7 separate regions of the Homo sapiens genome follow, and regions 1, 3, 4, 5, 6 and 7 are each linked to region 2. The links come from fine-mapping of genetic effects on gene expression. A gene starts in region 2. Each other region holds a variant in brackets. All regions are shown on one strand. Distances are between the middles of the regions. Region 1 overlaps WDR27 (WD repeat domain 27). Region 2 holds the start of WDR27 (WD repeat domain 27). Region 3 overlaps LOC105378146 (a long non-coding RNA gene). Region 4 holds the start of LOC105378148. Region 5 overlaps WDR27 (WD repeat domain 27). Region 6 overlaps WDR27 (WD repeat domain 27). Region 7 overlaps WDR27 (WD repeat domain 27).

Region 1 (4,000 bases), 95 kb after region 2:
GTCAAGCACTGAAGTTTGGGATCCTCTGCCTAGATTTCAGGAGATGTATGGAAGCACCTGGATGCCCACGCAGATGTTTTCTGTAGGGGTGGGGCTCCCTTGGAGAACCTCTGCTAGGGCAGTGCAAAGGGGAATTGTGGGGTCAGAGCCTCCACACAGAGTCCCTAATGGGGCACTGCCTAGTGGAGCTGTGAGAAGAGGGCCACCATCCTCCAGACCCCAGAATGATAGATCCATCTACAGCTTGCACCATGAGCACGGAAAAGCTGCAGACACTCAACACCAGGCTGTGAAAGCAGCTGGGAGGGAGGTTATGCTCCGCAAAGCCACAGGGACAGAGCTGCCCACGACCATGGGAACCCACCTCTTGCATCAGTGTGACCTGGATGTGAGACTTGATGTCAAAGGAGATCATTTTGGAGCTTTAAGATTTGACTGCCGCACTGGATTTCATACTTGAATGGGGCCTCTAGCCCCTTTGTTTTGGCCAGTTTCTCCCATTTGGAATGACTGTATTTACCCAATGCCTGTACCCCCATTGTATCTAGGAAGTAACTAGCTTGCTTTTGATATTACAGGCTCATAGGCAGAAGGGACTTGGCTTGTCCCAGATGAGACTTTGGACTGTGGACTTTTGGGTTAATGCTGAAATGAGTTAAGACTTTGAAGGACTGTTGGGAAGGCATGGTTGGTTTTGAAATGTGAGGACATGAGATTTGGAAGGCCGGGGTGGAATGATATGGTTTGGCTCTGTGTCCCCACCCAAATCTCATCTTGAATTGTACTCCCATAATTCCCATGTGTTGTGGGAGGGACCTGGTTGGAAATAATTGAATCATGTGGGCAGTTTCCCCCATACTGTTCTTGTGGTAGTGAATAAGTCTCATGAGATCCGATGGTTTTATCAGAGGTTTCTTCCTCATTCTGTCTTTGCTTGTTGCCATTCATGTAAGATGGGACTTGCCCCTCCTTGCCTTCCACCATGATTGTGAGGCTTTCCCAGGCATGTGCAACTGTAAGTTTAATTAAACCTCTTTCTTTTGTAAATTGCCCAGTCTAGGGTATGTCTTTATCAGCAGCATTAAAATGGACTAATACATTGGTCGATGGGCACTTAGATTGGTTCCATATCTTTACAATTGTGAATTGTACTGCAATAAACATACACACACAGTGTCTTCGTGATATAATGACTTATTTTCCTTTGGGTAGATACCAAGTAGTGAGACTGCTGGATTGTATGCCAGATCTGCTTTTAGTGCTGTAAGAAATCTACTTTTAGTTCCATGGAAAACAGTATGGAGATTTCATTTTCCTTTTATACCATATATTTACTGTGCCTTTTCTTTGTTTAGGTATATTAATAATTACCATTGTGTTACAGTTGCTTAGTACAGTTGCATGCTATACATGTTTGTAGCCTAGGAGCAATAGGCTACACCACACAGCTTAGGTGTGTAGTAGGCTACACCATCTAGGTATGTGTAAGTACACTCTGTGACATTCACACAGGGACAAAATTGCTTAACGACATATTTCTTGGAATGTATCCCCGGCATTAAGTGATGCATGACTGTGTAGTTAACTCCTGGCATCTTCTTAGTACTCAGCAAACAGCCAACAACATCCATTTTCTAGTGATTATTGCTTATTTATTTTTTATTTGTATATATTTAGGAGGTGCAAGTGTAATTTTGTTACATGGTTAGATTTGTAGTGGTGAAGTCCGGGCTTTTAAGGTATCCATCACTCAAATAATGTGCATTCTGCCCATTAAATAATTTTTCTTCCTGCATCCCCTTCCCACCCTCTACCCTTCTGAGTCTCCAGTGTCTATGGTTTCATACTCTATGTCCATGTGTACACATTATTTATCTGCCACACATAGGTGGGAACATGTGGTATTTGTCGTTCTGTTTCTGAGTTGTTTCACTTAAGATAATGCCCTCTACTTCCATCCATGTGCTGCAAAAGACATGATTTCATTTTTTTCATGGCTGAATAATATTATATTATATGTGTGTGTGTGTGTGTGTGTGTGTGTGTGT[A/GTA]TACACACACAAGTATACTACATTTTCTTTATTCAGTCGCCTGTTAATGGGCACTTAGATTGATTCCATGTCTTTGGTATTATAAACAGTGTTGCAATAAACATATGAGTGCATGTGTCTTTTTGAAATCATGACTTCTTTTTCTTTTGGTAGATACCCAGCAGTGGGGTTTCTGAAATGAACGGTAGTTATATTTTTAGTTCTTTGAGAGATCTTCACATTGTTTTGCGTAGAGGTTGTACTAATTTACATTCCCATCAGCATTGTATAAACTTTCCCTTTTCCCTGCATCCTTGACAGTATCTGTTACTTTTTGCTTTTTTAGTAATAGCCATTCTGACTGGTGTAAGATGAAATCTCATTGTGGTTTTAATTTGCATTTCTCTGATGATTAGTGATGTTGAGCATTTTTCATATGCTTGCTGGCCATTTGTATATCCTCTTTTAAAAGGCTTTTATACTGTTGGTGGGAACGTACATTAGTTCAACCATTGTGGAAGACAATGTGGCATTTACTCAAAGGCCTAGAACCAGAAATATCATTTGACCCAGCAATCCCATTACTGGGTATATACCCAAAGGAATATAAATCATTCTATTATAAAGATACATGCATGCATATGTTCATTGCAGCACTATTCACAATAGCAAACACATGGAATCAACCCAGATGCCCATCAGTGATAGACTGGATAAAGAAAACGTGGTACATATACACCATGGAATACTAGGCAACCATAAAAAGGAATAAGATCATGTTTTTTGCAGGGACATGGATGGAGCTGGAAGCCATTATCCTCAGCAAACTAACACAGGAACATAAAACCAAACACTGCATGTTCTCACTTATAAGTGGGAGCTGAACAATGAGAACACATGGACACAAGGAATGGAACAACACACACTGGGGCCTGTCAGCGGAGTAAGGAGAGGAAGAGGATCAGGATAAATACCTGATGCTTGTGACGCTTAATACCTAGGTGATGGGTTGATCTGTGCAGCAAACCACCATAGCACATGTTACCTATGTTAACAAACCTGCACATCCTGCATATGTATCCTGGAACTTTAAATAAAGTAAAAATGTCTATTCATGTCCTTTGCCCACTTTTTAATGGATTTATTTGTGGTATTTTTTGTTGAGTCGTTTGAGTTCCTTGTAAATTTTGGATGTTAGTCCCCTGTAAAATGCATAGTTTGCAAGTTTTCCCCCATTCTGCAGGTTTTCCATTCACTCTGTTGATTATTTCTTTTGCTGTGCAGAGTATTTTTGTTTAATTAAGTCATATTTGTCTATTTTTATTTTTGTTACCTCTGGTTTTGAGTTCTTAGTCATGAATTCTTTGCCTAGACCAATGTCTGGAAGTGTTTTTTCTAGAATTTCTTCTAGTATTTTTATAGTTTCAGGTTTTACACTTAAGTCTTTAATCCATCTTGAGTTTATTTTTGTGTATGGGGAGAGATAAGGGTCCAATTTCATTCTTTTGCCTATAGCTATCCAATTTTTCAAGCACTATTTATTACAAAGGGTGTCCTTTCCCCATTGTTGATTTTGTCAGCTTTCAAAGATCAGTTGACTGTAAATATGTAGTTTTATTTCTGAGTTCTAGATTCTGTTCCATTGGTCTATATGTCTATTTTTATACCAGTACCATGTTGTTTTGGTTACTATAACCTTGTAGTATAATTTGAAGTCAGGGAAGGTGATGCCTCCAGCTTTGTTCTTTTTATTTAGGATTACTTTGGCCATTTGGGCTCTTTTTTGGTTCCTTATGAAGTTTAGGGTGTTTTTTTTTTTAATGTAAAAAATGACATTGGTATTTTGAAAGGCATTGCATTGTACCTATGGATTGCTTTGGGCAGTATGTTAATTTTAATGATATTAATTCTTCTGATCCATGAGCATAGGACGTTTTCCTATTTGTTTGTATTATCTGTAGTTTCTTTCATTG
Region 2 (4,000 bases):
AATGGGTTTTGACCTTTTGAAGTATGATAGTGTTTGAATTTCAGGAAAGATTGTACTTTCTTAAAGGTCCGTATCACCGTATGGCATTGCATCTCTCCCATCCCCCTTGACTTGCAATGAATTTTGCATGGCATTGATTACATTGATTAAGTTTACATTTTTTCCTTAAATTAAGGAACTCATAGTGCCCTTCTCACCACAAAATCCAGAGAGGAATATCATTAGTGATAGCTAAGGCAGAAGAGTTTAGATGGGCTTAAAATTCAGTCCTGTAAAGATAATTTTTCATTCTATATTAACAATTTTTTTCCTAGGTCGCTGGATTTGTGACTGTTGTCAGCGGGCCCCCCCAACACCCAGGAAAGTGGGCAGAAGGGGGAAAAACAGCAAAGAGGGATAAAATAGTTTTTGACTCTAATACTGTATATGCATTTAAGTGGAATATTTGGTGCCATTTACAACATTATTTTCATGCCAATAAAAGATTTTTTTTGCAAATTATGAGCTTAAAATCTGCAGTTATTTCTGTTAAAAGCTACGCTTACTCTCGAAACTAACTCCAGGTAGAGAATTCATCTTCCAAAGTATTTTATAGTAACCTTGGCTCACTCCAAAAATTCAGTGGAAATGTTTAGTAACTTAAGATACTTAACTGTTTCTCCATAGCCCCAAAAGTTAATTTTCATGAAACTTCCTAATCTACATTGTTTCCGGCCTACCATAGGTAGCACTGACAAAGTTATTTAATAACTGAAGAATTTTCATAGGTATGACAAATGGCCCACTAAGATTTGGTGCAGCTGGATTTAGAGTTGTCATTATTGGACTGGTACAGGAACAAACTTTGTAAATACCTGCCTGCCAGGAAATCCTTTTTGTATAGAAAAGTACCATCACCTACTTGGGGTACAGGCATGAGGCTTTAGTCCAGGCTCAGGGAAGTGTACGTAAATCATTTCCAACTTGATTTTAGTAACTCTTGAAAACTTACACCAACTTCGGTTAGAATCTCCAGAGTAAAATTACAAAGTTATCAACCTTTTGATTTGTGTCACAGCATGAAAGGTTGCTCTATTTTATATAAACCTGTTACTGCAATCATTTTTAGTCAACCTGCCTAATGAAAATGGAGTCTAAACACTTTGTGCACAGTCCTTTTATAGGAATTATGATCTTTAAAATACTGTGCTTGCTGCTTTTCCTATTTTTGGGGTAACTGAGGTAACAAAACTGCGTATGGCTTTATTTTTCCATCCCTTGACTAAAGGTACCTAGAACTTCAACCAAGTACAAGTAGCAAGGTTCACAGCAAACTGCAATCAGCTTCACAGATGGAGGGTTTTATATCCCAGAGTGTGGTCAACGACTCAAAAGAGAATTTCAAGTACCAGTTTCAAAATGCTAATTAATATCGTCCAGAGAACAGATTCCTCCTCTTGCGAGGCGTCTTCCGGGGCACCAGCGTGCTTCTGGCCGGCATCTGCGCCGTCGGCGGGGTAGGCGGCCTCGCCGAACGGGTGCTGCTCGACCGTGCCGTCGTAGTACACCTTCATCTCGAACTCGCTCTCCAGGTGGGAGGGGTGTCCATAGACGCCGATGCCCACTGGGCGCCGGAAGTGCGCGGGGATGGACACGGCGTCCGGGCCGCAGGTGGCCGATTGCAGCTCGTAGTCGTCGAAGCTGGGGTGCAGGCTGCTGGCGGAGACGTACAGATCCGCATCTCCCTTGAGGCTGCGCATCCTGAGGACTATCTTGCCCTCGTGGTTCAGCCGCAGGTAGCTGTAGTTCCCGGCGCCTATCTGGCCCTGGACGACGTGCAGGAGCACCCACTCCTCGGGGACCTCCTCCTCGTCCGCGCAGCTTCCCGGAGACAGGACCTGCGAGGCTAGGAGCAGCAGCAGGGCCGTCGTCCAGGGCGCGGCCCTCCCGCGGGGAGCGGCCATGGCTGGCGGCTCAGCTCCGGGGCCTGCAAGTGGGTCAGTGCTGCTGGGGACACCGGAGGCGCTCAGCACCGGAGCCTGTCCCCGCCGTCCGCACGCGGGTCCACGGCGCGTCCAGGCGCCTGGTCTGTCGCTGGGACTGTCCCTTCCCACCCGCGTGAGGCCCCGGGGAGGAGGGGTGGGTTAACCCCTCCCCCGTAGCGCGGCGCCCACTCAGGGCAGGGGCAGGGGCAGGGGCAGGGCCGCTGTGGCACCCTCGGACTCACCACCACTCCCCGCAGGGGGCCGCGCTTTATACATCCGGACCCGAGGCCGGAGCCTCGCCGGAGGCGGAAGTGACGCTAGGTCCGTAAGTGAGCCGGCCGGAAGCGAGGCTTCTCCAGCTGTCGCGAGATAGCGAAAGGGGCGTGGGCGCGAGGGGCGGCGGGCTAGTAACCATAGCGGCTCGCGTGGGTCGGCTGGCAAGTAACCATAGCGGCGAGCGTGGGGCGGAGTGTGGCTCGGTAGTCCTCTGCGTGCCCTCCTGGGAGCTGGGTGCTGTGAGTCCTCCCCTAGCGGGCTGGTCTCGGCGCGGAGTCGGCGCCGAACCCGAGCTGCTGCTCTGGGGCGTGTGCCTAGGGCGCAGGGCTGGAGCGCGGGGGCTGCGCGGTTGCTCGCGGCTCCGCTGAGGTCTCTAGGAAAGGGGGCGATTTGAGGGTTCCGCCGTGACCGCTTCCAACGGCGGACACGCGCGCTCTGGACCAGAGCCGTTGCCCGCTGTCTCGTCACCCGAAGCCTCCTCCTGACGCCGTGCTAGTGCGAGGGTCTCCAGGGGAATTCGGGGCACAAGTCGGGCCGGAGCATCCGGGCGGCCGCTTGAGATCGGCGCTTTGAGAACTGAGCGCATGTGGAGTTCGGAGGAAAAGGGCTCAGGTGGTTATTTTAATTAAAGCAGCTGTGTATAAGGAGCACTCAGATCTCTTTAAAAGATTCAGTAGTTTAGGAACGAACCAGGGCTGTAGAAATGCCCGGCCTCCTGCACCTCCCGTCGGTTCTGAGCTCCGAGGGCGGGAGCGTGGACCCTGAGGGCTCGTTAATTATGCCCCACTGGCCTTTCAACCTGCGTGGTAACTACCAGGCTAGGTTTTCCTAACTCGAGCCAAACAGCAAGTTTCTGACTTGATTATCACTAAAAGAGAAAAATTTCGATCTTTTCTAATCAGAAGGGAGTAATTTTCTCTTTTTAAAAATATTCGTATGTACATTAAAAAAACGGAAATGCACAGGATTTTATCAGTGGTACTCCTCGAGTAGTAGAGTTTTCATCTTTTTATGTATTTCTAAATTTTCTACAATTTACACACACTGCTCTGTACCAGTAAAGGAGTATTAACTCTACAGCTTCCAGTTTATCTGGGATTACTATCTTGTGTTTACTGACTTAACTTTAAGACTATGGTATCTTTAGCAATCACTTGTCACTGCCTTTTCCTGAAGTGCTTACCTAGTGTTAGGTGCACTAGAATCTCACTAAAATAATAAATTTAGTTTATTTTCCCTGACTTGTTCTGTGCATGTATGTACATGGATATTCCTGGGGATATCCTGTGACATTGATTATCCCCTAGGGTTGGCACAGCAGGGAGAGGAGGTAGGGATAAAAAACTTTATTATTTCTGCATTGTTTAAATGTTTTGTATTGTATTGCTTTTGTAATTCAAAAAAATGTTAAACAATTTATATTAGTGGAGGTAGGTTAAGTGCTGTAGCAATTCACCCCAATAGAACAGTTGCATGTTTCTTGCTCACACAGTCCTGTGTAGCGGTTTCTAGTCAGACGATTCCTTTGGGCAGCTCTCTGCAAGCTGCAGCCTAAAATTCTTCCATGTTGTGGTTTTTTTCCTTAGGCCCTCTGAATTCTCCGCATTTAGCCAGTGGGTGGGGAAAGAAGAGAGGCAGTGCAGGAGGAATTTATGGGCCAGGCACTCAACGACTACATGGCTGCACTTAATTGCAAGGGAAGCTAGGGAGTGTAGTTTAGTTCTGTGTCTAGAAGGAAAGGGAAGTGGCTTAGTGGAAAA
Region 3 (4,000 bases), 750 kb after region 2:
GTGAGATCATTCAATTGTTTTCTTTCTGTGTCTGGGTTATTTCACATAGAATCATGTCCTCCAGGCCCAGCCATGTTGTGCAAATGACATTTTTTTTAAAATTCAAATTCCAAATGTTCATTATTACAGGTAGAAACATTTTTAATTTTCATGTAAGTTGTTTCCTTTTGGGCATAGAGATGTTTGTAATATTACTGATTTTAGGTGTTTCCTGATTTCTATTACAAGCACTTAGTACTCTACATTTCCCTCAAAGCACTGCTTAGCTGCATCCTGATAATTTTGATATATTGTATTTTAATTTTTGATTCAAAATATTTTTAGTTTAGTGTAAGACTTCAGTTTTGACCCATCATTCATTTAGAAGTGTGTTGTTTATTTGCCATATATTCAGAGATTTTCCAGATATATTTTTGTTTATTTTCAGTTAATTTCATTATGGTTTCAGAACATACTTTGCTTGTTTTCTACTCTTTTTTCATGTTTAAGGTTTAGTCTATGGCACAGACTATCAGCTATCTTGGGAAATATTTCAATTTAAAGATATACTTTGCTGCTGTCTGGAGGAATTTTCTATAAATGCCAATAATAATTAGTTAATAGCATTTATGGAATAAAAATAGGACATAAGATTAGTGATCTTCTGTTTGGCAAAGTTTTCTTAAAGAGGACACAAGAAATTATACATTATAAATTTAAAAAAATGAAAATTATAATCTTTTATTCTTCAAAAGACATCATTAAAATTATTTAATAGACTGAAAGGAAGTATTTGCAAAATAAATATCTGAAAAAGAGCTTTTGTTCTGAATATATAAATAATTTATAACACAATGGTAAGAAAACAAACAACTCAGTACATTTGTGGACTGAGTTGGACAAATATTTTAATGGATATTTCAACAACAACAACAACAAGAAGAAAAGATGCACAAATGGCAAATCAGCAACGGAAAAGATGCTCAACAGTACTAGTCTTTAGGGAAAAGGAGGTTAAAACCATAAGAGCAATACCATTGCACTCGTGTGAGAATATCTAATATTTAAAAGTATGACCATAGCAAACGCTGGTGAGGATGCAGAGCAATTTCAACTCTTATACACTTCGGCTGAGAATGTAAACCGTTTTGGAAAACAGTGTGGTCAATTTATAAAACATTAAACATTCACCTACCATATGACTCAGATATTCTACTCCTAGAATTAATACATTTGAGACCCAAATTTTTGGATACAAATGCTCATATCATTTTTTATTTTTAATATAAAAATAATATATTAAATAATATATTAAATATATATATTAAATAATATAGAAAATAATATAAATGTCTATTAGCAGGTAAATGGGTAGATAAATTGTGCTGTGCTCATGCAACGGGCAACGACTCAGCCATAAAAAGGAACAAACTACTGGGGGACGCAATGAGTGGACGATGCACCCAAAATTGTCAGGTGAAATTAAAGCAGCCAGGTTAAAAGTAAGAAAGAGCATGCACTGCAAGACTCCATTTACATGAAATTCTGGAAAATGAAAACCATTTTACAGTGGCA[G/A]AAATCAAACTGACAGTTGCCTCAGGACAGGAACAGAGGGAGGAATGGACACCAAGGAACATGAGGAAGCCTTTTGCTTACAGAAACACATGTTTTCATGGGAAATCAATATGTCACTGTATCAGTATTCATCAATATATGCAACTTATTTTACAGCAATCATACCTCATTAAACATAAGATGAAATAAAGACATTTCAAGTCAGAGAAGAGTTGATCAATTTCCTGCCACAGAATGACATTAAACAGTAAAAGAAGTTTCTTGAGCTGAAAGAAAAGTCCAGAAGATCCTACAGGTAAGCAGAGATCATCAGGAAGGAATGAAGCACACTCCAGAAACTGTGAAAATAAGAAAAACTGTTTAAAACAACAACTGTAAAAATGTAGTGCAAGTTTTATAAGGTGTGCATAAGTAAAATTTTATATTATATTAGTGCAAAATGGAGTTAACTATTGGAAGCTTCTTGTATTTTCAGAGAAATATTAAAATTACTACTTTAAACATTAGCTACTCAAAGATGCTTAGGGTAGCTGCTAAGAGAATAATAAAATAATGTACTAAAATATAATGAAAAAGAAAAATCAGCACATGAAAATACTTGATTTATCTGAAAGGAATTAAGAAAAATGGAACAAAGAAATAAAAACAGACAAGAGAAATAGAATAGTAGGATGGTAGACTTACTTAAACACAATTATTTTAGTAATTAAATGTATAAAACTGAACAATCTAATCAGAAGACAAAGATGGTCTGTATGAAAAACCGAGAACCCAACAATATGAAATTTGCAGGAGGCACATTTTAGATAAAATCATACAGGCAGGCTGAAGATAAATGTCTATAGAGTGGGAGTCATGGACACATTGTGTTTAAGAGGCAGCTGAGGTAGCTATAGCACTACGAGACAGTTGAGTTTAATTAAGGCAAAAATATTCCTAAAGATAAAAGCTACATTTCATAAAAACAGGAAGATACAAAACTCATAATTGTGTGTACGTGCCTAATAACATTGCTACACATGTATAGAAAAAAAAAAGACTTAACTAAGCAGAAGAAGAGAAATATCCAAAAGCATAGTTGAGGATTTTAACACCTGTTTCAGAAGCTGAGAGAATAAACAAACCAAAAAAAAAAAAAAGTATAAAAATAGCCTTTAGGGACACAACTAAATGTTCCTAACTGGTGTATACAGAACACTGCACCCAACAACTGCAGTGTAAACTCTTTATCAAGGGAACAAGGAACATTTACCAAAACAGACTGGACCATAAAACACATCTCAACAAATTAAAAATAAAAAGATAAGTAAAATCACACAAATTATGTTTTCCTGCACAACACAATCACACTGTAACACAACAGAAAGATGACTGAAATAATCACACAAAACACTTCCACGCTGTTACGCATAGGAGCACGATGGATGTTGAAAATGTTTTGAATTGAAAAATAATAAAAAGTGTCGTATCAAAACATGAGGGACGAAGCTAGAGCAGTGCTTAGAGAAAATTGTATAGCTTCAGTTGCATATATTTAATAGGAAGAGTTTTGGAGTAAAGGCTCAGAGCTTCTGCCCCCCGAAACTAGGAAAAGAACTGCAAATTAAACCCAAAGATATAAGGAAGGAAATTATAAACTAAGTTGGAAAACTAAGAATTTTCTGATTTGAGCAGGTGATCGTTTGATTTTTCATTGCTCCAATTAAAAAGCAACCAAAATTCTTTTTTAATAGTTCTAATTAAAAAGCAGCCCAAACTGTTTTTAACTCACACACTTACATGTTCCAGCCATCGTGTTGAGCTTGCAAGAAATATCAAGCACAGTCTATCTGAGGAGTCAAAACGAACCCATTAAACCTTCAATAACAGCACAAGAGAGTAAGGGATACAAGAGTTTCCACAAGGCGACTTTAAAGAAAACGATAAATCCTGTTGTGAACCATCCGACATTGCAGAGGGGGTGTGTGAGCACAGCTGGGCTGGTGAGGGGCGGCTCCCGCCTTGCTTTGCCGGGGCTGCTCTTGGGACACTGAGCGGGTCTGGCTGTGCTGCCATCTGTCCTGTCGGGAACAGGTCTGACACGTCCACCCAAGAACTGTTGGCTTCTTGTCTATTTTTAAAAGCTAAAGCAATTTCTTTGATCTTCCTACCACCACAGCCCTGCTTCGGGATGGGAAAGGTAAAAGTTGCTCTCCCCACTGTAAAGACGAAGAAAGTGGGATGTGGAAAGGTGATAACCCTGCACACAGCACAGTCAGAGTCAAGACTCAGGACAATCTCCCACCCTGCTCCTGTCCCCTTATAGCAATGGTACTTGGAGCTCAGAAGGAGGAGAGGAAGCTGCGGCTTGGAGACCGTTCAGAGGCAGCCGTGGAAAATCCCGGCTTGAGCTGGACTGGGCAGCTGGCGAGTGCCGGGGCAGAAAAGCGCGCAGGCCGGGCCAGTG
Region 4 (4,000 bases), 360 kb after region 2:
TGAATCTGTGTCAAAATTTAGAGACTTGGCTGTGGTTAATCTCTCGCTGCTACTGCAAAGGCCGTAATAACAACCAGCTGAGCGAAGAATGAAGTCCAGACCTGGAAAACAAACAGATCCTCCCTTGGTGAGATCGTGCTGCTGCAGCCACAGCCTGGTGCCGCTGCCCGGGTGTCAGGAATGGGATCAGGGTCAGGGAGTGGGTTGTCTCTGAGGGACCTCCCTGCCCTGCCACCTGGGGACACCTCGCATCATGCATCTACTGCCTAAGTAAGCCTGACATGGTGACAATAAGGGAATCCAAAAGAGTAGAATACAGTTTGCTCTGTGGCTGTCTCCAAGGACCAAAGTAGCAAAAGAATAAAGTCAGTCAAAGTTTAATATTTTAAAGCCAATATATTTCTTAATAAGAATATGAGTGGAAAACAGTGACACAGCCAATACTTCCCCTAAACTGAAATCATTTCTCAACCCAGGAGAAATTTCATCTCAAAAATAACAAATGGATTAAAAATGAATATGAACCACAAGGAACCTTCACCCCCAGGTGAACATTTTAATAGGTTTCCTGACGAATGAAGTGGAAGTTGGCTCACGGTGTGCTCAGCCTCTGAAGCAACTGGATTCAGGCAGAGGCAGGTGAGACTTCCCTCGAGCACCTCCTGCCTCCTGCCCTGCCCAGAGGCTCCGACTGAGGATGTGGCACCTCGTTCCTTAGGCAGGTGTGACTTTGTTTTTATTACAATAATGTATATACAATAAGAACCGTGTATTCCTTTACTGAGAGAAAGAGAGAGCGAGAGAAGATCATAGGGTTGATTCCAAGGGCACGTGTTACAATGCACTCTGCAAACTTCTTAAAATTTATTGGGTTTCTCATCTAAAAATGTTCTCTGTGTTAGCTTCTGTCAATCAAGAAACATGACGAGACAAGTCTCAATCATTTTAGGAGGTGTATTTGCCAAGTTAAGAATGCGCGCCCAGGAGACAGATCTATGCCTTTCTCCAAAGACGATTCTGAGGGCTCCAAATTTAAAGGGGAAAGGGTGAGATAGTCACAATTTTCATGGAAGATGTGGGATAGGGAAAAATAATCATGCCTTTGTCTGGCTCAGTGAATCTGCATTTTTTTTTTTTTAACATAAGACAACGTAGACAGATGGAGCAGAGGAAAAACCTAGGGAATCTGCATTTTACAGAAGATCACAGACAAAATGGGGCAGGGGAACAATCAGATATGCATTTATGTCTGGTGGGCCGGGGGTGAGTGCAGCTATAAAGAGAAGCTGTCAATTTACATTGCCGTGGTGAAATCGTCACAGAAACACCTTAGATTAAAGATCTTGGAGCATACTAGGAATTTCCTTGTGGGCAAAATATGGGAGAGGCATGTAGCTTTTCATCAATTAGGAACCAAAAAGAGGAGGCAGGTTTGCAGCACCCAGTTCTCAGCTTAATTTTTCCCTTTGGCTTAATGAGTTTGGGGTCCCAAGATTTAATTTCCTTTCACACTTTCTAGACCATTGCCCAGACAATCTTTTTTGACCTGTGGTATCTAGCACAGTGAACCCACCTAATCCAAGAATGAAATGTGAATGGCAGCTGTGGAGTTATGCAACTTGGCTGATCCTGAGATTGTGGGTAACAATGATCTTTTCTAAACATGACCTTATGAGGCCCGTGCAGAGGCTTATGTCTGTAATCCCAGCACTTTGAGAGGCTGAGGGGGATGATTGGTTGAGCCCAGGAGTTCGAGACCAGCCTGGGCAACATAGCTAAACCTTGTCTCTACAAAAAATTAGCCAGGCATGGTGGTGCATGCCTGTGGTCCCACCTACTCAGAAGGCTGAGGCAGGGGGATTGCTTGAGCCCAGAAGGTTGAGGCTGCAGTGAGCTGAGATTGCACCACTACACTGGAGTCTGGGCAACAGGGCAAGACCCTGTCTCCAAAAAAAAAAAAAAATAGCCATATGCATATAACCTTCTGCCCCACCCTTACAGCTGTACCACGTGAGTGAGACATGGAAGCTGTTTTATGCCTCTGGGAGTCTTCAGTCTTTTGTTCTCTGAACAATGAGGGCACGATTCGGTTCACCATCTCTGCCCAGCTCCTTAGTCCTGGCTCCTTTCCCTAGGAACAGGCTGGCACAGAGTTCCAACACTCTTCCCAAAATCATATGAGTCAGAAC[C/T]AGGAACCCAGAACCTAGTTTTAATAGAAGCTGATGTAAGCTTCTATAGCAATGCAAACTGATACCTAAGTCAATAGTAAAATATATGTGTTTGCAAGCACCTTCCTTCTTTCTGTGTAATCGAAGGGCTTCCAGCGTCCACCACAGGCTCTTCCTCTGTGGGAGTGTAAACCCTCCAGTGTCCCCAAGGCTGAGTGAGTCCAGTTTATGTCAGTATTAACAGCCCTGGGAAAATAGATGAGTTTGCAGTGTGTGTAAATTGTGGTGTTTAAGTTGGGTGACTCTATAGTTTATCATCGGGAGCGGGGACTGGGATCCTTCTGAGAGTGGCAAGTGGCCGTTCATAATTCCATAGCATCTCAGGCGTGAACCAGGACAGGCCCTGGGAAGGGAGGTGGTGTGGCCATGCTAAGAGTAAGCCTACATATGAACAAAAGCTTGATCTTTGGGTTTCTTCCTTAAACACTGCTCAGATTCCTCTACTACCAGGATGCCTCTGACTAAATATCTCACCCAGTCCAGCCCTCCCAGCTGGGGCCGGCGGGATCTTGTAGGAACTGCAGCGACAGAGGCAGTTAACAGGAAGGTTCACTGAGCAGACAGACAATGGGCTGGACTGAGAAAGGCCTGAAGTGGTTGGAGACTAAGGCGAACTCCAGCCTAGAACGTATCAACCAGACAGTGTGATTCCCTCTTGGACAAGAGCAGTGGGGTTAAGGACGGGGGTCTTGGTCATTGTTAGGGGCTCACCTGCATGGGAAGTGGAGAAGAAACAGTGGGGAAGAGGATGAGACATAGAAGGAGGCAGAGACCTGACGCTGAAGGAGCTTTGCAGCAGGTGAAGTCATCTGGGCAGGACACATGCCAGAATTTGGTGTGGGTGTGACAGGTGGCAGGCTCAGACGGACATCTAAGTCGGGTGAGTGTGGCCAGGGAGAGGGTGCACAGATGGAGCCGGGCAGTATGGCCAGTCTGGAGGCTGCTCAGGGCCCTGGTCACACAGCTCCTTGTTTCATGGGGCCTAAAATATACACAGCTGACCCATGAACAATGCAAGAGTTGGGGTGCTGACTCCCCACACATTTGAAAATCTTCATGTAACTTTGCACCCCCAAGAAAATTAACTACTCATAGCCTACTATTGACCAGAAGCCTCGGGACGACATAAACGATGGACACGTGTTGCTGTTATATGTATTATATACTGCATTCCAAAATAACCTAAGCTACAGTAAAGAACAGGTTATTAAAAAAGTCATAGGGAGGAGAAAACATATTCGCTATTCATTAGGTGGAGTTGGGTCATCATAAAGGTCTCCAAACATTAGAACTTCATAGTTAGCAATTTTAAAAGTTGAAAAGTGTCATGCATTTTTTAAACTTCCTCATGTTTTTAACCAGAAAGGTTTGTGGCCGAAGGTAGCCAGTGGTCGCCCAGAGGAACCTCCTAGGTGATGGATATACCTTCCTGAAATGTCATGGATAATTGGATCTTGAGGGAAAGCGACACCTCTGGGAGACGCTTGCTCCCTGGCCTGGTGGCCTCCCCTCCTCACTGGGCTCTGGCTGCCTCCTTCTGCAATGGGCCGACCTGGGTGGGTGGTTCCGTCCTGCACAAAGGCTGTCTTTGGGGTCCGAGGCTTTCTCTTCTTGTTAGGAGAACTGGCCCTAGCACAACCTGGGTGTAGGAGGATCCTGGCACCTCTGGGAAGGGTGTGGCTCTGATTGCCTGGGGTCTTTCTCTGACACCAGCTTTTCCTGGGCTCCTGTGAAGACCCTGCAGTGGAGAGAAAGCTGGTTCACCAGGAATC
Region 5 (4,000 bases), 190 kb after region 2:
TCAATTTTGGCTTTTGTTGCCACTGCTTTTGGTGTTTTAGACATGAAGTCCTTGCCCATGCCTATGTCCTGAATGGTATTGCCTAGGTTTTCTTCTAGGGTTTTTATGGTTTTAGGTCTAACATGTAAGTCTTTAATCCATCTTGAATTAATTTTTGTATAAGGTGTAAGGAAGGGATCCAGTTTCAGCTTTCTACATATGGCTAGCCAGTTTTCCCAGCACCATTTATTAAATAGGGAATCCTTTCCCCATTGCTTGTTTTTGTCAGGTTTGTCAAAGATCAGATAGTTGTAGATATGCGGCATTATTTCTGAGGGCTCTGTTCTGTTCCATTGGTCTATATCTCTGTTTTCGTACCAGTACCATGCTGTTTTGGTTACTGTAGCCTTGTAGTATAGTTTGAAGTCAGGTAGCGTGATGCCTTCAGCTTTGTTCTTTTGGCTTAGGATTGACTTGGCAATGCGGGCTCTTTTTTGGTTCCATATGAACTTTAAAATAGTTTTTTCCAATTCTGTGAAGAAAGTCATTGGTAGCTTGATGGGGATGGCATTGAATCTATAAATTACGTTGGGCAGTGTGGCCATTTTCACGATATTGGTTCTTCCTACCCGTGAGCATGGAATGTTCTTCCATTTGTTTGTATCCTCTTTTATTTCATTGAGCAGTGGTTTGTAGTTCTCCTTGAAGAAGTCCTTCACATCCCTTATAAGTTGGATTCCTAGGTATTTTATTCTCATTGAAGCAATTGTGAATGGGAGTTCACTCATGATTTGGAAAATTTTGTCTTCATCCTGAGCTCAACAACAACGATAAAACCTGACTGCTATGGAGCCATGTGGCTGCTGTGTGGAGGGCAGCTCAGGACATGTAGCTTCCGTTTCTGACAAAACTTTAAGGATGAAAGTTAAATATACCAGAGTGAATAAAGTCCATCATTTATGCTACTGGTTTAATAACGTGATAGATTCAAATATTTTCTACAAAGTATCTACTGATAATATAATACATAATTATAAGTTTTAAACACTTTACATTTCCACAAGTGTTGTAAAGTTGTTTAAGCCTTTTCTCCTCATATTTCTTGATGTGTTTTACCACCTGCAGTTGTAACACATCTTAGCAGATTCCACTTCAGATTGTACTGAATCTTTGTCTTCCCAAATCCTTTCAGAATATTCTTGTGTGCAATTGTTCCATGCAGACAATTCATAGAGACTAATTTTCAGTCACTTTAGACTATTCACTCTTAAACAACAACTAAGTAGTACAGTAACATTTGTTGAGTCATTGAGTGAAAAAAAAAGAAATTAAAAATAATTTGCCCTCAACTCTTGAACATCTCTTCTAGCCAAAAACCTAACAGTCTCAGATGAGCTTATTTGCTCTGATGCATTTCTCTGGCTGCTGCAATCAACCATGATTTAATCAACTAATAATTGGTGTATGGCTTTCCTCATTTGGCTAACAAGCCATTCAGAAAGTTACTTTGCTTGTAGCTTGATTTTAATGTATTTTTATTTTTTGAATAAATTCTCTGTGTTGAGATGTTCTGTTTTAAGTTTTTTTGTTTTTCTGATCACTGCTGTCCTGTGAGTTGGGCCGATTTTATGTGAGCCTGGTCTGGTCATATAGATGCTTCTGGAGTCCTTTCAGCTCCACTGGAGTGCACAGCATATGAAACACAATGCTCTGCCATTCATCTGTATAAAAATAATCCACACTCTGCTGTGCCCTAAAAGCATGGCAGTTGAGGTCCACTTTTCTCTTCGTGTTTTGACATGATGGGTATACTATGAAGATTTAAAATAAACCATTCATAGTACAGAAGTACATGCAGCAGTTGGAAGGTCAGTTTATAAGGGCATTGCTGTGACCTGTAGAGTGGCTAGCACAGTTGTGAAGCTGTGAGAGTGCCACATGTGGTCTCCATCACAGCCACTCCACTTCACCATGTGTCAAGAAAGCCACAGACAATATGTACTCAAGAGGATGTGTCTGTGTACCAATAAAACTTTATTTATGAACATTGAAAAATATTCTTTAGTGTTTTCAACCATTTCAAAATATAAACATTATTCTTATCTACTGGATATGCAGAAACAGGCAATGAGCAGGTCTGTTTCATGAGCCATAGTTTGCTGAAAACTTTCCTGAAAGTTACAGGGAAGGCTGGTGGGGTTTGCTATTAGCAGACAAGAAGC[G/A]TAGAATTTCTGTCCTGGGTGAGGGATCTAGGAGCTCCAACCTGTCAACCATGCTTCTGGCTGATATGCTCCAGGTTACAATATGTCTTCACTCAGTTGAAAGGATGAAAGCTCTCAGTGAGCCCCGTCAAGATGGAGTAGTGTCATGGGTAGTTACACTGAGAACATCTATGAAGCAGAGCGTGCCCAGCCGTGTGCCCAGAACCACTGTGGGTGTGTACCTGCAAGTGAATTGATGTTCCTTCCCCAGTCAAAACAATCTTACACACGTGCTGCTTCTTTCTTTCCCCACCTCAAACTCCTTTCAATAAGTCAGGTCAAAAAGGACAGGAAAGGGGGAAAAAAGGCAGCTTATAGATGCCACATGTCCACATTTGTGCTTACCTTATTCTCAACCAAACTTGTTAGGAAACAAAGTTGGAAACACAAAGTAGAATTTGGAAAATCAAATCTGAAATGGAAAGAATAGTGTTTTTTAGGACTCAAAATATTTTATTTCTAAAACATTACACAATTGAAAGTAATGTTTAATCAGATTTCATTTTATGCCATTAGAATGTCAAGTGTTGTTTGGATTAAATTCTAATCCTTATATAGATGCATCTAAATGCAGTTAATATGCTACATAATAAGGTAGTTTAAAGTCCATATCATTTAGCATTTAATAAAGGTACACATTCAGTTATACCAAATTAATGAATGGATTCCTAATCAAAGCAGAAGAACACATATGGAAGTTGTCCAACAACCAAGCCACATGTGGAAATATCTGTTTCTCTGTTGATGTGTCCCAAGTTATAACTAACACATCTCTGGTCCATGTTATTCTTGTTCACCTTTGATTGCAGTACAATCTATTTTTCCAAAGTACTATATATTTACTGCAAAGGACACACAGTTTTTGAGGATATAAATGTAGGTGTACAGCTAATCTGTAATGACCATGTTTTTACCCTACTCATGTGCTTCTGTGAATTTGTTGCCGTCTATGGCTTTCTTTCATTCTTGGAATCACCATGTTTCTCTCCTTACTCAATCAAACTTGCTCTTAATTGGGCACAATGTTTTTGTTTCACTGGACTTCCAGACAGTCATTACTAAGGAGGCAAAATTTAGAAATTATAAATCCAGACATTTGAGAAAGTTACTCCATTAAGATTAGCACCAACAACACCCTTGATTTTTTTAATCACTTACCTCAAGTTCTGTCAGCATGTAACAGATTAAAATTTACAGTTGCTCAACATTTGTTAGGTAAGACAGAGTATCTTAATGGCATACGGATTATAATGTATCCTGACCAGTGTCTCCCTGGAAATCTCAAATGAATGTGATGTTTATGCCAATTTTCTCCCATCAAAAGGAAAACAAAAGTAAAATGAAAAATAGGGAAAATTAGTGCTTGGAAATTCTTCAGAGCTTCTAAAGTTGCAGTGTTTAATTTTTAGCTCAGATGAAATACTGCACAATTGTAAATAAATTACAATTCCATTGAAAACAAAGGAAAATGTACAAAAGCAAATGTCTGCTGTAGAGTTAACTTCTGGGAGCTTTGTTTATGAGTTTAAAAGTTTAGGGGGTTTAGGTGGTATATGTGTTTCTGATGATGACACTGACTGAAGTGGTGCATGTGGGCAGCGTGCAGTGTGTCCGAAGTGTGGCCCCCTGGCTAGCAGCTTCAGCATCACTGTGATGTGTTAGACAAGCAGATTCTCAGGTCCCCTGCCCAGTCCTAATGAATCAAAAATCTGGGAGGGTCCAGCACTCAGCATTTTAATAAGCCTTCCAGATGACTGTGA
Region 6 (4,000 bases), 42 kb after region 2:
GCGGTGCACGCGCGTCATGCTGGGTGTTACCTTAGTGCTTTCCTTGACACGTGATCTGAGTACTCCGCGGTGCACACGCGTCATGCTGGGTGTTACCCTAGTGCTTTCCTCGACACGTGATCCGAATGCTCCGCGGTGCATGCGCGTCATGCTGGGTGTTACCTTAGTGCTTTCCTCGACGCGTGATCCGAGTGACTCCGTGGTGCACACGCGTCATGCTGGGTGTTACCTTAGTGCTTTCCTCGACGCGTGATCCGAGTGACTCCACGGTGCACATTCACTGCAGCATCTCTGTGTGGCAGTCCTCAGCCTTTAAACTTGACGGATGCATTTAAGTTCACTTCTTAGATTCTCAATAATTCTGTCCCTAGAAGAAAGCCAGCTTCCCTCTACAAGTGCTCTGGGAAAAGGAGAGCAGGTTGAAGTAACATTTCCTGTACTGAGACTTGCACCCTGTGATCTCTCACTCATCCCAAATTCTGCATGTGGATGGTAAGTATCAAAAACTTTGCCTATGCCACATAAAGGAAACCTCTTAAATTCCTTAGATGAACATTAGGTTCATTTTCTAAGAATGACTGAGATAAAACCAAATTATTTTGGTCTCTGATTATTAGTAACTTCATTCTTGGGATTGCATGTTTTAAATCTTAAAGTTGGTAAACTTGGGCAATGATACGTAAGTGTCTTTAATAAAAGGAATTGGATGATTTTTAAGTTTATTACCAAAGTCTAGGCAGATCTTTGCCTCTGTGATACAACTTTTTCTTTAGAAAGAGGAAATGGTGATTGGAATGGCCTAGACTTTCCCATCTACCGCTGTGCTATACATTACACATTTAAAGTTAACCCCAGACTAATTTTATTTATTTCTGTGCTCAGTAGAAATATTATTACATATTTGGCAACATAAGGAAGTACTGTTTAACTGTGATTCAAGAATATATTACAATTATGTTTACTTCTCCTCCCCAAAATGCTTGAGATTAGGGGGCAACCTTGCTTTGAATGGCCTTGGCCGTTGCTTGTCTTTGTCTCTGTGCAGAGCTGCCCCTGGAGCAGAATATTCCCTGCTTGGTCCAAACCACAGAGAGTAAGCAGGGTGGGCATGGAGGCTGGACACGGTGCTCCCGGTGGGTGCATGGACCTGAGGCATTTTGAGGCTTCCCTGGCTTACCTCGAGCAGAGGGAGCCCTCAGAGCTAAGCCAGAGCCACATGACCCATTCTGTTGACGATGGTCGTTGGGTGAACCGTGGACTGGTGCTGGTGGATGCCCAGGAGGAGCCCAGGGTGCTGCCTGGGGCGGAGCTGGAGAGGGGAGGTCTGGAAAGCAGGTTCCAGCTGGGGGCCTCTGCCAAGTCCATGTCCAGCCTCCCTGGAGATGGCTTCTCAGTGTATTAACAGACCCCGTTGGCATTGGTATTAACTCTGCCGCCTCGGGCCAGCTACTTTCCTCCTGGAGTTGGTTCCTTATTCACAGAGGTGGGCAGCTTGTGTGGCCTTCAAGTCTAGTCACTCGGAGGCTACCTGAGCAGTGGCCTTGGCCCAGGCACTGGCACTGACCTTTTCTGTAACCTTAGAAGAAAATAGAAACCACAGAGGTCAGAGCGAGCGTCTTCACAGACATTAGCAGGTGCCCAGGGGATCACCACAAATGCGTTGGTGGCACAGATGTGGCCAGCCTGGCACAGATGTGGTTCTCACTGGCAAGAACCTGCCCC[G/A]GCCCACGCTCTCCACTCCTGCGGAGAGCTCACAGCCAGGCCAGGGGGCGCACGTGGGGCCCAACGCCCACGCTCCCCACTCCTGCGGAGAGCTCACAGCCAGGCCAAGGGGCGCACGTGGGGCCCAACGCCCACGCTCCCCACTCCTGCGGAGAGCTCACAGCCAGGCCAGGGGGCGCACGTGGGGCCCAACGCCCACACTCCCCACTCCTGCGGAGAGCTCACAGCCAGGCCAGGGGGCGCACGTGGGGCCCAACCTTCAGGAATAAGATTATTGTGTATTCTTTTCTTTTTTTCCTTAAATCAGTCTTTCTTCTGAGAACACCCGATGTGTGTGGATCGGAAGCTCAGTGGGCTTATTCGTATTTAACCTGGCAAACCTGGAAGTGGAAGCTGCTTTGTATTACAAGGGTAAGATCTTTGATTTCAACGCCATGTAACTGTAATGTTTTCCTTTGACTGGTATGTGGGGTAGTGTAAGTGTTTGTGGAGAAGGCCTTGCCGTGTGAATCTGAGGATGAGATGCTTCAGTCACAACTCAGCATTGAGCACGTGAGCACCTCTGTGCTGCTGGATCCGAAGGACGAGGGCCCTTCCCGGACCCTCGGGCACTCAGCCCTGGAGCCACTCCTTGCCTACATCTGCCAGGCCCTCGCCTGGCACTCCAGGCCGCCCGGGCCCCAGCAGCGTGGAACACCTGCAGGAACACCCTTGGGAAGCCCCTGGATTCTCCACCATCCTTAGAGAGCCTCCCAGAGCCCCAGGCTCGCACAGCGTAAACCCGGCCGAGGCGCACTCCTCTCCAACCCTGGCTCCCTTCCCCAGTTTCTGCCAGCTCCAGAAATGTAGGAATAGTCACCTCCACCCCCACCCCCTCCCCCAAGACCCCCATCTCATCCCCCCACCCCTCCTAACTCCATGGATGCCACCAGCCGCACTCTTTCTGCCCAGGAGCCCAGGCGACTTCTGAAAAGCAGGCTGGATTCCGTCCCTCTCCTCCACTGCAGCAGGGCCTCCTCGGCGGCCTCCCGGGCACTGCTCCTCTCGGTGCCTCCTTTCTAGCCCTGAACGCTCAGACCTCTGTGGGGCTGTGGGATGCATCTGTGTCTTCACACACGCCCTTCCCTTCAGCCGCCCATCCCTGCCCCTCCCCAGCTCAGCCAGGCGCAGCTTCTCCTTGAAAACTCAGCCTTTCCTTCCCCCAAATGGTCACAGCTCTAATTACACATTTCCTTTCTGATCTGGTGCTGGACATGTGGCTTCTCCAGGAGGCTGAGCTGCAGGTCTCAGTCCGAGTCACATCCCAGCCTCAGAGCGGAGCCTGGCATGTGTGACGCTCAGGGCCTGGTGTGTGTGTGGTGTGTGCGCTGGTGTGTGTGTGGCCTGGGGCCTTGTATGTGTGAGGATGTGGTGCACAGCCTGCAAAGTGTGTGGTGGGGCCTGGACTGTGTGTGGTGGGCTCTGGGCTGTGTGTGGTGGGCTCTGGGCAGTGACTCCGTGTGTATGTGCTACCTCCCTCCCCATCATGTTCTTCCTGGTCTTCGCTCAACTGAAGATTTCCAGAGCCTCAGCATCCTGCTGGCCGGATCGTGTGCCCTGAGGAACCGCACTGCGGATCAAAAGGTCAGTCCTGAGACGCGGCCCTCCCTGTCTATGAGACGTGCCTCTGATTTCTTCTTTCTTCAGAGTGATCCTGTAACGACTGGCTGAGTAAACGGGATTTTGTGTGTAAAAACGTTTTAGGAGTGACAGGGCGATGTCGCTGCTATGAGAATGAAGCAGCTGTTAGGATACGTGTGCGGATGCACGTTTCGTCTGCTTTTACTGGGTGGTGTCGCTAACGATGTTGAAACCGCGTCCCTGCAGGTGCTGTGCTTGCTGGCCTCCCTCTTTGGCGGGAAGATTGCCGTGTTGGAGATCAACCCGGCCGCGCTAGTCAGGGCTCAGCAGTGCCCCAGCATGGGGCAGAGCCTCTCGGTGCCAGCCAGGTAGAGTGTCTTCAAGTGTGGAGTGTGTGTGTGTGTTCACCAATAAGTGCCATCTGGATTTCTATGTTCAGAAATAAAGATTAGAAAACTCTGAGCTCTGGCCGGGCGCGGTGGCTCACGCCTATAATCCCAGCACTTTGGGAGGCCGAGGCGGGTGGATCACGAGGTCAGGAGATCGAGACCATCCTGGCTAACATGGTGAAACCCCATCTCTACTAAAAAATACAAAAAACAATTAGCCAGGCATGGTGGCAGGCGCCTGTAGTCCCAGCTAGTCGGGAGGCTGAGGC
Region 7 (4,000 bases), 140 kb after region 2:
CCATCCGTTTCCATCTGTCCTTCAAGAATATGTAGGATTGGAAAGTTGGGTCTTCCCTGTTTGTCAACCAATTAGCTTAATTTTATTTTCTTTGAAAAGAGAAAGTGAGCATTTTAGGGTTTATGTTCTCTTCTTCAGCATTTTGAGAATTTGTTTTCAACTGGGTCTTCTACATCATCCACTTTATTTCCCACAGCTGCAGGTCCCTACTGAGCTTAGTGACTTGAAGTAGTGAGTGCAGTGACTTGAAGAGTGAGCTTGTGTCCTTACTCCCTGGGCATGGCTGTCTCATTTCAGCTGTGCCTTTCCTGTTGGCTCCTACAGATTCTTGCTTATTTTTCATGGAAGACATGTACTAGATGTGGAGCAAGTATGTTATAAGAAATGTTTTTTTTCCTTCAGAAGTGGTTTTCAGTGTTTTTTTACTTTGAAACCCTTTGTCCAAATGGAACCTTGCACAATCATGGGGGCTTTCTGGCTGGGTGGTGGCAGAGCCTGGGACTCACCTTCTGCCTCTTTCTCCTTCAGTCTGTGGTTCCTGAGTGTGGTTCCTGAGTGATTGCTGTCAGACTCAGGCTTCCACGGACCTGTTTGAGAACCACTGGTCTCCCCAAGCCCTGCTGAGGGAGACGCTCTTCCTGGTGGAGCTGACGCTCCCTCTCCTTTACAGTGCGGTTTCGGCAGCTCCCTTGGGTCTCTGTTTACTCATCCTGGAACACAGATGCTGCTTTTCTGCGCTGTGTTCTCAGCACTGGAGCTGGCGGCCCTTCCTCCCAGCTTTACGTCTGCAGAGTGGCTGGGGTACAAGGGCCAGCCTCTCTAGGAACACAGTGGACCGCCGCTCTCACTCCTCTTCTGTGGGATTCCGACTTTATTCTCAGAGTTGCAGCTTCCAAGTTGGTGTGGAAAGAGAGGTGCAGGTCCTGGGAGCATCCTAAAAAGCAGGACTCGCAGCCCTGGGTTTTGCCTCTTCTAAGACAGGAATCCGCTGTGGGGCTGAAGGGGTTGGAGAGAGCTTCCAAAATTTCTTCCCGGCAGTACAGTTTTATTGTTTCAGAGCGTGGCACAGGTGTGGGCCACACTGTGTTTCTCAGCACGCCGCCTTCAGTCTTGCTTGTGGTTATTGGAAGCACCTCCTAGGCTCTTGCACTAGAGCGTCTGCGCCTGGTGCTGTGTGTGAAGTTCTCATCTTTTGCTGTTGGGGAGCGTCAGGGAGCCCCCCAGGAGTTCCTGCCCTGGCTTCATTTAGCCAGGAAGTCTCTATAAGAAGCCAAGCTACTTAGAACTTGAGGACATCTTACTGGGAATTTCACACTGGCCAGAAAGTGATACTCCTAAACTAGTCAGTTCCACAACAGGCACATGCACTGTTCTGCCACGCAGACCGTCTGTGAGGGTGCCCTTCTCTGTAACTGCGCCAACCTGGACTCCTCACACCTGCAGGGAAGGGCCCCGTTCAAATGGTGTTTATCACGGACAAAGCCAAAGTGTGCGTGACTGACCTACATGATGCCAGATGTGTGGCATCCCGGGTCCTCCCCAGCAGCACCGATCACCCCAGGTGTCACTGTCACAGCCCAAAGTGCCTGACTCATTTCCAAAGGTCCCCCAGACAGCCCCACCTGGCTCGGGCTGCTGCCTATCAGACTCTGGGGCACGCAGACATCGTTGTTGGCCTGCTTGGTGCCTGAGGCTCTCAGGCATTGCCCAGCACTTGAGGTGTCTCTATGTGGGATGCCTCCCCTCTGCCCTGGCCTATTATGCATTTTTAATAAATGGAGCCAAGTAGAGTAAATATTAATTTTGTTTTTACAGTTGAGTTCCCAGTTTCAGTGTCCACACTTGTTATCCACTGTCTCAAATGCACATCTGTGCATGTTCTTAGTCAAGCACAGACTATGGCTGATTTTGTTACCAAATTCAGTCCTGATACTGTCCGAATCCCCCACACTGGAATCTGATTATCCTTTTTAGAAAGCGTTTCTACAGGATGTATGCGTGGCAGCCTCGCAACACCCAGGGTGAGAGTGAGTGCTCCAGTAGTCTCTAACGTTGCCTCAACTCCAACAGGCCCCGAAATTCAGGTTCCTTGGCTATTTGTTTTAAACAATACAAAAATACTCAGTACATGCCCATCTTAATAAATGACAGAACAGTGAGAACCAATTAATGGTCATCGTCAAAATATTTATGTCATTTCTCATCACGTGACATAGTTTGAGTTGTCATTTTGTTTCTCATCCCGTGACGTGGTTTGAGAGTCTCTTCGAGGCCCCCGGGACAGTGGCCACTCTCAGGGTCTGTGGCAGGTGCTGGAGGGCCGGCCCCTCTGTGGG[T/G]TGGGGGCTCCCTGCCAGGAGCAAGGGCTGTCAGACCACCTTGCCCTCACCACTGCCCAGGTGAGCAGGGCTGCTGTCTAGCCACAAGCTTTCTTCCCTGCTGTCACTCTCAGAATTGACTTGAGGAATTTTAGAAATCAGAATCAGAGCTTTGTCTAGTGGTGCTATTGTTTACGCTACAAAATGTTTTATTTCTTACATAATTGATCTGGTTTCTTCTAACGAGTAACAATACATTACAAAATGTTTTATTTCTTACATAATTGATCTGGTTCCTTCTAACGAGTAACAATACATTACAAAATGTTTTATTTCTTACATAATTGATCTGGTTTCTTCTAATGAATAACAACAGACAAAACTGAGCTATTGAAGACACATTGATCATAAAAGTCAAAGCTGAGCTCATAATTATCAGTTAATTAAAAAATGGGGCTATAGGTGCAGTGGCTCACGCCTGTAATCCCAACACTTTGGGAAGCTGAGGCAGGAGGATCGTTTGAGCCCAGGAGAGCAGTCTGGGCAACATCGTGAGACCTGATTTCTACAAAAATGAAAAATCAGCTGCGTGTGGTGGCTCATGCCTGTAGTCCCAGCTACGCGGGAGCCTGGGAGGTCGATGCTGCAAGTGAGCCAGGATTGGACCACTGCACTCCAGCCTGGGCAACAGAGCGAGACCCTATCCCTAAAAACAGAATAATTTTAAAAATGTTACTTGGTTTACAAAACTTGTTCTTTAACATTGACTCTTTAGGAACAGATTAAGTAAAGGAAATGAAGTGGCTTGTGTGCATGCTCGAACCCTTCCAGCATCTGTGTGATTATGAACACACATTGTGAACGGGACACTCAGTTTCTCCACTGCGTAAGACAAGCGGGGAAATACAGATTTCCAATACCTGGTGGGGGTGTTTTTAGGGGATGAGACTTCAGGGTCCCTTTGAAATATTAAATGGATCCCAGATGCGGGGCAGTGTTCCGCCTTATCTGAAATACAGTCTGGATTTCCTTAGATGTTTCTAATTTAGAATATTATGTAGAACTGCATATTAAAATTTAGTCTTCTGGTGAGTGACTAAAGTTTAATCTTGGTATAAAATTTTGCCCCCCAAAAATTAGGCTTTGCATTTGGAAACTGGCCTTCAGTCTCGGCAGAAGCACACACAACAACGTTAGCAGTTTGTTCACTGGGAAGGGAGTACTAGGTATCTCTTGATTCGCAGTTTCTATCCCGTGCTGGTCAGAACACATCTCCCGCCGTGTAAGCAAGGTGGCGGGACTGCACTCCCAGGCCGGGAGGCTTCTGAGGCTTGGCTAGACTGGGCTCAGCTCGGCGAGGCTTCAGGCTGGTGGAAGGGAGTGCTCGCTGACAGCGTACCTGGTGGGGGTCTCCCCGGCTCTCGTGTGCTGGTCCCTGGCATGGTCACTTAACTCCCGACCCGTTCTGCACCTGTGGTTGCGTGTGGGGTCCACATGGGTGTTGGCATGAGGACGCGGGCGTTCATTACTTCACTCACTCACGCGTTTGGTTACCTGAGGCACATCAAGGGCTAGCTGACGGAATGGGGGCAGGGCCAGAAAACTGGGCTGGGAGATGGGAGCCATGGAGCGTTCCAGTGCTAGAAGAGAAGTCAGGGCCACTCCCAGGGCAGATGGGTGAGCCT

The links. PIP is the estimated chance that this variant, and not a neighbour inherited with it, causes the effect. A credible set is the group of variants that fine-mapping cannot tell apart.
Region 1: its variant is the best candidate, but not a certain one, in a credible set for the expression of WDR27 in whole blood (INTERVAL, PIP 0.57).
Region 3: its variant is the best candidate, but not a certain one, in a credible set for the expression of WDR27 in liver (GTEx, PIP 0.73).
Region 4: its variant is the best candidate, but not a certain one, in a credible set for the expression of WDR27 in unexposed skin (GTEx, PIP 0.78).
Region 5: its variant is the best candidate, but not a certain one, in a credible set for the expression of WDR27 in lung (GTEx, PIP 0.82).
Region 6: its variant is the best candidate, but not a certain one, in a credible set for the expression of WDR27 in whole blood (TOPMed, PIP 0.61).
Region 7: its variant is the best candidate, but not a certain one, in a credible set for the expression of WDR27 in whole blood (TOPMed, PIP 0.59).

What each region holds. Positions count from the first base shown.
Region 1 is chr6:169,605,442-169,609,441 of GRCh38, reverse strand. The region is part of intron 22 of WDR27 (WD repeat domain 27); the gene reads left to right. Among named protein-coding and RNA genes, the nearest start is that of WDR27, 95 kb to the left of the region's middle. The variant A/GTA (reference allele first, on the strand shown) is at 2,049.
Region 2 is chr6:169,700,403-169,704,402 of GRCh38, reverse strand. WDR27 (WD repeat domain 27) reads left to right here and starts at 2,374. Exons shown (of 26, transcript NM_182552.5): 1 at 2,374-2,852. It overlaps C6orf120 (chromosome 6 open reading frame 120), which reads right to left and starts at 2,277. Exons shown (of 1, transcript NM_001029863.3): 1 at 1-2,277. The coding sequence starts at 1,943. The coding sequence ends at 1,368. It overlaps PHF10 (PHD finger protein 10), which reads left to right. Exons shown (of 12, transcript NM_018288.4): 12 at 315-501. The coding sequence ends at 400. RefSeq lists a silencer at 1,911-2,280 and enhancers at 2,331-2,420, 2,741-2,820.
Region 3 is chr6:168,950,950-168,954,949 of GRCh38, reverse strand. It overlaps LOC105378146 (a long non-coding RNA gene), which reads left to right. Exons shown (of 4, transcript NR_136250.1): 3 at 1,711-1,849. Among named protein-coding and RNA genes, the nearest start is that of LINC01615, 210 kb to the left of the region's middle. RefSeq lists an enhancer at 3,975-4,000. The variant G/A (reference allele first, on the strand shown) is at 1,555.
Region 4 is chr6:169,340,981-169,344,980 of GRCh38, reverse strand. LOC105378148 reads left to right here and starts at 468. Exons shown (of 4, transcript XM_017011621.2): 1 at 468-722; 2 at 3,942-4,000. The variant C/T (reference allele first, on the strand shown) is at 2,190.
Region 5 is chr6:169,505,775-169,509,774 of GRCh38, reverse strand. All of the region lies in intron 25 of WDR27 (WD repeat domain 27), which reads left to right. Among named protein-coding and RNA genes, the nearest start is that of LINC02519, 120 kb to the right of the region's middle. The variant G/A (reference allele first, on the strand shown) is at 2,202.
Region 6 is chr6:169,658,796-169,662,795 of GRCh38, reverse strand. It overlaps WDR27 (WD repeat domain 27), which reads left to right. Exons shown (of 26, transcript NM_182552.5): 9 at 372-492; 10 at 2,030-2,133; 11 at 3,278-3,345; 12 at 3,589-3,710. Among named protein-coding and RNA genes, the nearest start is that of WDR27, 41 kb to the left of the region's middle. RefSeq lists an enhancer at 1,378-1,877. The variant G/A (reference allele first, on the strand shown) is at 1,723.
Region 7 is chr6:169,564,715-169,568,714 of GRCh38, reverse strand. All of the region lies in intron 25 of WDR27 (WD repeat domain 27), which reads left to right. Among named protein-coding and RNA genes, the nearest start is that of WDR27, 140 kb to the left of the region's middle. The variant T/G (reference allele first, on the strand shown) is at 2,337.